Regions from separate parts of the Homo sapiens genome. Here region 2 is linked to region 1. Evidence: fine-mapped expression QTL. Tissue or cell type: prefrontal cortex. Region 1 holds a variant in brackets; the other region holds the start of a gene. All regions are shown on one strand. Distances are from middle to middle. Region 1 has its middle 24 kb from the start of DRC11. Region 2 holds the start of DRC11 (dynein regulatory complex subunit 11).

What was found. PIP is the estimated chance that this variant, and not a neighbour inherited with it, causes the effect.
Region 2: DRC11 starts here. The variant in region 1 is the best candidate, but not a certain one, in a credible set for the expression of DRC11 in prefrontal cortex (CommonMind, PIP 0.84).

What each region holds. Positions count from the first base shown.
Region 1 is chr2:236,528,925-236,533,320 of GRCh38, forward strand. No RefSeq gene overlaps it. Among named protein-coding and RNA genes, the nearest start is that of DRC11, 24 kb to the left of the region's middle. The variant T/C (reference allele first, on the strand shown) is at 2,319.
Region 2 is chr2:236,505,349-236,509,744 of GRCh38, forward strand. It overlaps DRC11 (dynein regulatory complex subunit 11), which reads right to left and starts at 2,128. Exons shown (of 19, transcript NM_024726.5): 1 at 1,909-2,128. The coding sequence starts at 1,919. RefSeq lists a silencer at 2,254-2,303.

The DNA of each region.
Region 1 (4,396 bases):
TCCTACAAACTACTCAGGATGGTTTTGGGAACAAAATAATATCAAAAAACTGAATGTAGCTCTATTAGTCCATTTTCACACTGCTATAAAGAACTGCCTGAGACTGGTAATTTATAAAGGAAAGATGTTTAATTGACTCACAGTTCTGTATGGCTGGGGAGGCCTCAGGAAACTTACAATCATGGCGGAAGGTGAAGGAGAAGCAGGCACCTTCTTCACAAGGTGGCAGGAGAGACAGAGCGCAGGGGAAACTGCCACTTTTAAACCATCAAATCTCATGAGAACTCACTATCATAACAGCATGTGGGGAAACTGCCCCGTGATCCATTTACCTCCCACCAGGTCCCTCCCTCAACACTGGGGGATTACAATTCGAGATGGGATTTGGGTGGGGAAACACAGCCAAACCATATCAGTAGCATTTTCTTGTTTATAAAGCACCTTTCATATCTATGTCTGTATCTATATATCTATATATCTATATCTATCTCTCCTTTAGACTTTATAGTAGTGAGGCAAGCTTTATTATTGTATAAACATGAAAACAAAGTCATATAACTTTCTCAAGGTCACACAGCTAGTGTAGCAGAGCCAGGACTGACCTCAAGACTTTTACAGTCTAGAACCTCTCAGAACAAGAGAGAATTTGAGAGAGCTTTGCAAAGTGCATTACCACTGGAATCACTTGGCAAAAGGAAAAGAAATCCATGCAACTAACTTACACAAAAAGAGGATATGTTAAGAAGACTCAAGGACATATTCAGAATCCAAGATCAGCTAGACCTCATAAGGGCCATTGTTCCAGAAAAACTGCCAGGAACAGAGAGAGCCAGCCTCCCCCGTGACCTCACTCTCTCTGTGGGTCTGCCGGCCCTGTCCTGCTTCCCAGCGCAGCACTGTTCAATCCTTCTCTCTCTGCTTTTTGTCAGATTTCAAATGCCAAACCCTGGGCCTCTCAATCCGTTGCTTTTCCTAGGTAGTAAACATGTACTTGGTAAAATACCATATATGTTCTAATATATTGTTCACTGAGGAAATACTCAAGGCTCTATGAAGGGGAAATAGTCACATGTCAAGTTTAAACTGCTAATCATTTCTAAACAAAGTGGAATTATTGTTTTATATGCTGTTTCATACCAAATTTCATATATATATTGACATCTATTATTTCTCAAAACTTTTTAGCTTTCATTTTTTGTAATAGCATCTTCTCAATGTAGGACTTCTATTATATAGAATAATTACTGATCATCAACACTGACTATTAAACCTACAAGTTAAACTTGGGTAGATCATGATTTTTTTTCTGTAAGAGAAGATATAATTAGTAAATAAAAACTGGGCTATAAATCAATAATGAAATTTTCTAGAAAGCTCCAAAATGTTCATCTAAGAAGACAGTGGAACAGACAGCAGTACCAGGAGGTCTGTCTCCCAGCTTTCTCTGTTGCGTGTACAAAGACATTTGAGTTCATTCAAAAAATGATGAATTTGATTTGCTTCAGGACTTCATAGGATGCTCTGCTGTTGTGCACAGCATAGAGATGGATCCATAGATGGCTCTCAGGATCTAAAGTCAGGCAGGCTTAGCACTCATAGCTTAACTAGGAAAAGGTTACATTAGAATGCCCAGAGAAAATATTCATATTACATCAGGAGCCACACAGATTGATAAGAAACACACGAAGTAGTCAGCATGTGAATAGGCAGATTATGAGTAAACATCTTCACAAGAATCAGTACAAATAAGTGAGAAAATGTTAACTCCCAGGAGTAATCAGAGGACATAACTGCCCTCTACTGCTCACCCCAAGGGAAATGATTTAGAATGTTATGACCTCTACTTACTTCTGAGAATTTCTCCCAAGAGAGAAAAAGTTTATCTGCACAAATTAATTTTCAGTAAAGAAGTGGCATTCAATATTAGGAGAACAGTGAAATAAATTGTAGTGTCAGCCCTAATACAGCCATGATACAGTTAATTTTGAAGATTACTGGCAACATGAACATATTTATATCAGATTTTCAAGCAACAGTAAAACAATCAGAAAGTCAGAGCTGAATAGGTTCTGAGACATGGTAACATCTCCAAATCTTCCACGTATGTAATTCAGAGAATAGACTGTGTAAAATTGGGTTTGCCTTTCTCTAGTTCTCTACACAGGTTCTGAATATGACACGGATCTGGGCATACTAGCTGAAAGAGACAATGGGAAGTTTTAGAAGAGAGACACAACTGTCAGAAAATCCAGGGAGAGCTGTGGTGGGTGTGGAATTACCTGACATTTGTATTCACCCGCGTATTCCCCACCAATATA[T/C]AAACTTTTTTAAAACCATAGAACCATGAAAAGAAAAGGCCTCGTTGCACAATTTGGTGCTCCCTTCATCTGTGGAGAGCAGGTGTCTGTGCCACAGCTCTGGTGGTCTAGGGAAGCATTCGCAGTAGACGAGCCAGCTGCCTCCCAGGCTGAGATCCTGGAGTCACCCTGTCAGCACGCTCAGACCCCATGTGGCTTCTTATGGTGCTGCCTCACTATCATGTCTTCCTTCTTTGGAGTTGAAAGCCTCTTCTTCCCATCTCCCCACTTTCCTAAACCCTCTGAAGTTACGTCCACACAACAGTCATGAATGGGATCCAAGGAGCTTAAGTACTACATATGAAAGGCTGGGAAACCTCAAGGCAAATACTGCCTTGATCACCTGGAAAATGGTCCTCTCTTTCACCATCACTCACAGGCCAGGTGCCCAAAGGCATTGCATCTGAGGTAAGCAGATGTCTGCAGCTGTGTGTTAGATACAGCTCCACAAAGGTAGACCCTGGGGTGAGGCCAGCCCTGTGAAGAGGGTCACACAGCAGGTGAGAGTGCCCGTGCATTTGGCCTGCTGGTCCACAAGCCAACCTCTGATTTCCTTTCGGGCATTAGTCCATGGTCCCTCCTTATTGGCAGCACATGGGAGTGGTGCCTGAACTGGGCTGCTGTATTTTATCACTTCTCTCTTTGCTGTTGAAGAACTGTGGGCCTTGAGTCCAATCTAGTAAATGTCCTCATTACACTCTCTCAGGCTGGGTTCCCAAAGTAGACTCTAAGGCAAGAAATTGAGTGCAAGTAGAGTATTTGGCAGACAATCCCAGAAAGCACTGCTATCAGGGTGGGAAAAATGTGACAGGACAGAAAAAGAAACCAACAAAGGGTGCAGGTTCAGGCAGGTTTCCACTGTGGCTTCTGGGGCTCCTTCCCACTGAGGAGTGATGATGAGACAGCCAGAGTTACTCCACCTGCAGAGCAAGGAAGCTGAAGTCTTTAACTTCCATCTGCCCCAGCACCGGCTGTGGCTGCTCCCTGTGGCACTACCTCTCAGAAAGCTCTCTGGTGGGAGTGGCAGGTGTCTGTCACAGCACACCAATGGGTGACTAGCAGGTGCCCCTGTGTTTGGGTGGCTTATTGAGCACCAGGGTAAGGCTGGAAGAAGAGGGTGTGGAAAACACTACAAGAGATTGGCAGAGGGCATGAATGGGCAAGTCATAAAAGAAATGCAAATTAAATTTTAAAAATTGTTTTGGATCTATAAATTGCAATGACTGGAAATAATGATAACACCCAGGAGTCAGTGAGTTATCTGGAGACCCACTCAGTTATATGCTGTGGTCAGATTATAAACTGGAATAAAGTTTGAAAGGCATTTTGGCAACACATACTTAGGAATGATTCTCATTAACAAAAGTAATCTGGGCATATCTCTTCCTGTCAACCTTAAATAGTCTGATACAGCTTAGAGAAGATATGGTGTGCTCTGTACCTATGGCGGTAGAGTCATTACAAATAATCAGGGACTGATAATTATCCTCTACTTAATAGTTCTTCCATGTCCCCCATCAACTCTTGCTAACTTTTCTTTCTTATAACTTCATCACCTGAAATTGTGTCATATATATTTTTGATCTGTTTACTGCCTAATTCCTTTTGGTAATGTAAGTTCTGTGATGGTAGGGACTGGTCTTAATTATGATCACCTAGATTTGTGCCTAGATAGTACTCAATGTGTATCTGGTAAGCAAATGCAGGGTTGCATAAATGGATGGATAAATGGATAAGTGGATGGGTGAGTGGATGGATGAGTAAGTGGGTGGATGAGTGGACGAATGGATAGATGAGTGGACAGATGGATGAGCACATCTTTGCTGATTATTCTTTAAAGGTGAAGAGGAGATGGTGGGTAGGTTGAGGTCTGGTTTTGCCTAAGTGAAGTGAAGCCATTGATAGGTTTGAGGCATGAACACCGCTTACCCCATCTAGTGCCAGTCTTACCTGAGGATGACTTGATTAGGAACCCATATGACACGTTGTACATCTATAAACTGATCAGACAACTCCTTTTGTGTGACCCCCAAACACTC
Region 2 (4,396 bases), 24 kb before region 1:
AAGATAAAACCTTCTGAATCTTCCAATCTTAACTAGTTTGCTGTCTTCTTCCCCAAATACTCCCCCTGCCTTCTTGCTCTACGGAAGGCCTGTCTCTGCTCAGAAGCCCTCTCAGTAGAGGCTCCTGTTACCCCCAGAGCCCTCTGTCTCTGGCTGTGGGGCTGGGTCAAGGGGACCCCTTCTCTTCACTGCACCTCCAGACATTTGCCTTCCCTCCTCCCAACACTCCCAGGCTTTGAATCCCATTTCATCTGATGCTGTCACCACTGCCCCTCAGTCACCATCATCTTCCATCTACCATGATCGTTCCAGGCCACCTCCAGAGCACCCACCCACTGAATAGCATCTTGATGCTGCCTTCCTACCTGTTCCATTGTTAAGTGCTGAGTTCCTCTACCTAAGGCCAGCACCCCCTGGATCCCATGTCCTCTCACTACCAACGATGTCACCCACTTCTCCCTCCTCCTCCTATATCATTCTGGGCCATTCCCTTCCACACACAAACATTCTATTGTTTTCTGTCTTGGAGCCATGTCCTCTGCCTCTAGCTGCCAACATATTTCCTTTCCTCTGCAGCAAAACTCCTTTAAAGAGTTAGCTATGCTCACCATCTATAGTTTCTCTCCCCCTACATTCACTTGAGTAAGTCTTTCTATCTCATCATACCACTGAATCAGCTCCTGTCAAGGTCACTGGTGAACTCCACACTGCCAAATCAACAGTCAGTTCTCAGTTCTACCCCAACTTGTCTCAGGAGCACTTGATGGAGGAGAAAGAAGTTACTTCTCCTGGAAACACTATTATTTCTTCCACTCGCTTCTTCCTCATGGATCATGTCTTTGATTCCTTTGCCAGGTCTCCTCTTCCCCCAGCCTTACTGTGGATGATCCCAGGATCAGTCCTTACACCTCTTTATTAATATTCATTCTATGTCTCACAAAGACCATCACAGGCTGACAGTGAGCAAGTTTATATTTCAGACATGGGTCTCGCTCCTGAACCCAAGATCTGAATATTTTAATTGCCTATTTCATCTCCACGTGATGTCCAATGGGCACTTCCAACTCAATACGTCTTAAACAGAACTCTTGATCTTCCCCATTTCCAAACCCTGGCAAGCCTTTAACCTCTCTGCTCTTATTTCCTTGCCTAGAATACAGGGCACGTAATAGCAACAGTGCAGGCTGGAGCTACAGTGCCCGGCTTGGCACTGTTCACTTGCTGTGTGAACTACTTCACCTCTTCATCCCCAAGTTCCCTCATCTGTAAAATGGAAATAACAATATTAACAGCCCCTACGTTACAGGGTTGCTGTGAAGCGGTTAGAACAGTGTCTACAGGGTCAGCGCTGTAATACCTGTTGGAAATTATTCTTACGAAGACCAAATGAGGTAACTTTGTGCAAGTGCTGTGTAAACGACACAGTGCTAGGCACACACTTCTTTCAGTACCAATGCCACTCGAGTCTGTGAAAAGCAAATGTCAATAATGCTTTCCCAAGATCTTTCTAGACTTAAATTTCAGGACCTAGGTGTTTCCACAAAGCACCGTATTTGTTACCGTGAAAGATTAACAAAAAAAGCAGACAAAATGGCATAGTGCTTCTCAGCAATAGCCCCTAAGGGCTTGGCAGGTATACGGAAGACTGGGAGCTCATCCCCATGGGGTGGTGGGACGCGTAGGGGAGGGGGAGATCTAAGTGTATGATTTTCCTTGCTCACAAGAAGCAGATACTCTATCCCGAGGCATATTTGAATTTCCTAAAAGGAAAAAAAGTGGGGGAGAGGAGGGAAGTTGAGAGGGGAGGAGAAAAGAAAAGAAAAAAGAAAATAAGAGAAGCAGAAAGCAAGCCACCTTCTGGCTTGGGGAAGCCCACTCCATGGCTGTGGCTGGGAGCCCATCACTTACGCGTTCGACATTGCTGGCTACTTTCCCTCTTTTCCTCGCCCTCCGGGAAGCTCTTCCGTTGCTCTCTGAAGGACGGTGGCAGCAGGGGTCAGGGCACTACCAGGAGCTACAGAGGATTTGGGTGGGGGGTCTTCTGGAGGGAGAAACCAGGACTGCGAGAATCTTCTGCTTCGGGCAGGAAAAGGTGAGGCCGGGTTTGCTTCGCAGGCACGGAGCGCGCAGGCGCAGAGAGGTGTTTCACTCCTTCCCGTCGCGACCCAGAGACTCGCGAACCTCACTTCGGCCACTCAGGTGGGCGCGACGCGGCCCTAGCAACGGAAACGCCGCGCCTGCGCATTGCCTTCCGCCTGCCCCCTCCCCCCCCCCGCCCCCCGCATTCCGCGCCTGCGCCACCGCGGGAGGCCTGGGTGGGCGCAGCTGTGGGAGCCGGTCGGAGTCCGAGCGCTCCGTCGCGGGGCCCGGCCGCTTGGCGAGCCTGCTCCGGGCCCCAGCACTTAGCCTGTGGTCCTCCAGGCCGTCTTCCCGCTTTCCTGCTGGCCCCATTTTCATCCACTGTCAGCTCTGCGGCCTTGGGCAAGGCCCTTAATGATGGTGGTCTTCAGTTTTCCCATCTGTAAACTGGGTATAACAGTCGTTCGTTCAGAACTTTACTGGGCATCTATTCTGGGCCAAGTGCAGACTTAGATTCTGGGCACCCAAGACTTAGGCAGACGCGCCCTTCGGAGACTTAATGAGTATGAACTAAGGCGCGGGTGCGTTGTAAATGTAAAATGCAGTGTGGATGCTATTAACAGTTATCCGTAAGTCGCTATGAGTGTTGGCTTTCATTGCTCTTCTTTCTTCGACTTTAGTAACTGTTGAGGTTTATTTGCACATTTTAGACCCTGCAGCTCCTATTGGAACGCCAGGTTTAATGCTGTCAAAGGCGTGGAGAGGACATCCAGGTAAAAATTATAATCAGGATCACAAAACCTCTCCCCCACCATTACTAATGAAATGCGCAAAAGCATAGTAAAAGCCAGCCCTCCGCACCGCCTTCAAATAATGGAGCAAATTATTTCTCAGACGAGAAATTGAGTACAACCTTGTACCGTAAACTTCAAAAACTCAGTGAAATAGCAGCTTGCCGTGGAGAATGGTGTCCAGCCTCATCTCCACCCTCCCAAAGCCCTTCAGGGGGCAGAGACCAAGTAGACACAACACCAAGAATTCTCATTAATGCTTTTTGATGCAAAGAATACACACACTGAAAAGAAGGGGTATGAAAGGGTGAGCCGAACGAGGAAACACCTGGGGAAATCCGGCCAGATAAAACCATCCTGAGTGGAGGTCAATCCCTACCGCTCCCAGGACCTGAGCAGGGACAGGAGAAATCTCCAGGGCTTGCCTTTTTCTAGGTCCCTACATTGAATTGAGGCAAAGATTCAAAGTCAAAGGGCATGTTGTCACAGGAATAGGGCACACTCGTGACAAGAGTGGGAGGATGGTGGTAAAGGAGCTTATCAAAATCTCAGAAGAGAGCACAGAGCCTGGAAGTTGTGTGGATTCAAGGGAGCAGTCCTTATCCTAAATGTGTACTCAGGTTCCAGAAAAGCAGAGAAAAGTGCAGTATCTCAGCTCTGGAACTCAGATACAGTGAGAAGACAGTCAAAGAGAATTCGCCCACATTATATTTGAACAAACAGAACATTTTCAAAGAGCAACACGTGTTAAATAGGAATAAGACAGAAAGAAGCAGCATATCCACTGTCTAAAACCAAGACTTTCATAAAAGTAGAAGAAAAGAAAGGATTATAACATAGGCCAGACAAGTGAAAGAAAGTCTGGAGAAAATCTAACCAAATAAATAAAAGCAGAAAAATCTTTTTTGTTTGTTTGTTTTGAGATGGAGTCTCCCCCTGTCACCCAGGCTGGAGTGCAGTGTGTGATCTCGGCTCACGGCAACCTCCACCTCCCGGGTTCAAGCAATTCTCCTGCCTCAGCCTCCCACGTAGCTGGGATTACAGGCGCCTACCACCATGCTCAGCTAATTTTTTGTATTTTTAGTAGAGACAGGGTTTCACCATGTTAGTCAGGCTGGTCTGGAACTCCTGACCTCAGGAGATCTGCCCGCCTCGGCCTCCCAAAATTCTGGGATTACTGGCGTGAGCCATCGCGCCCTGCCAAAACAGAAAAATCTTTACTTGTGCTCCATGCTATAGAATAAGCTAATAAGAACATTAAGGTAATAAAATAAGAACTGGGAGAAAATATAAAACAATGGAATGAGAAAGGAAGGAAGATTACACAGCTAAGGAAACCAAAAGAAAAACAGAAGTAGTGCAATACAGAAAATAAGTTGGAAAAACCAAGAAATAGACCAGGCACAATTCAGCTGAATTACTGACTTAGAGGAAAAACCTGACTCAATTACAGTAAATGTAGAGAGGAAAGAGTGAGACACCTGAGCAATTTACAAAAAGGGTTAGTTGATATTCCTGCAAGAAAG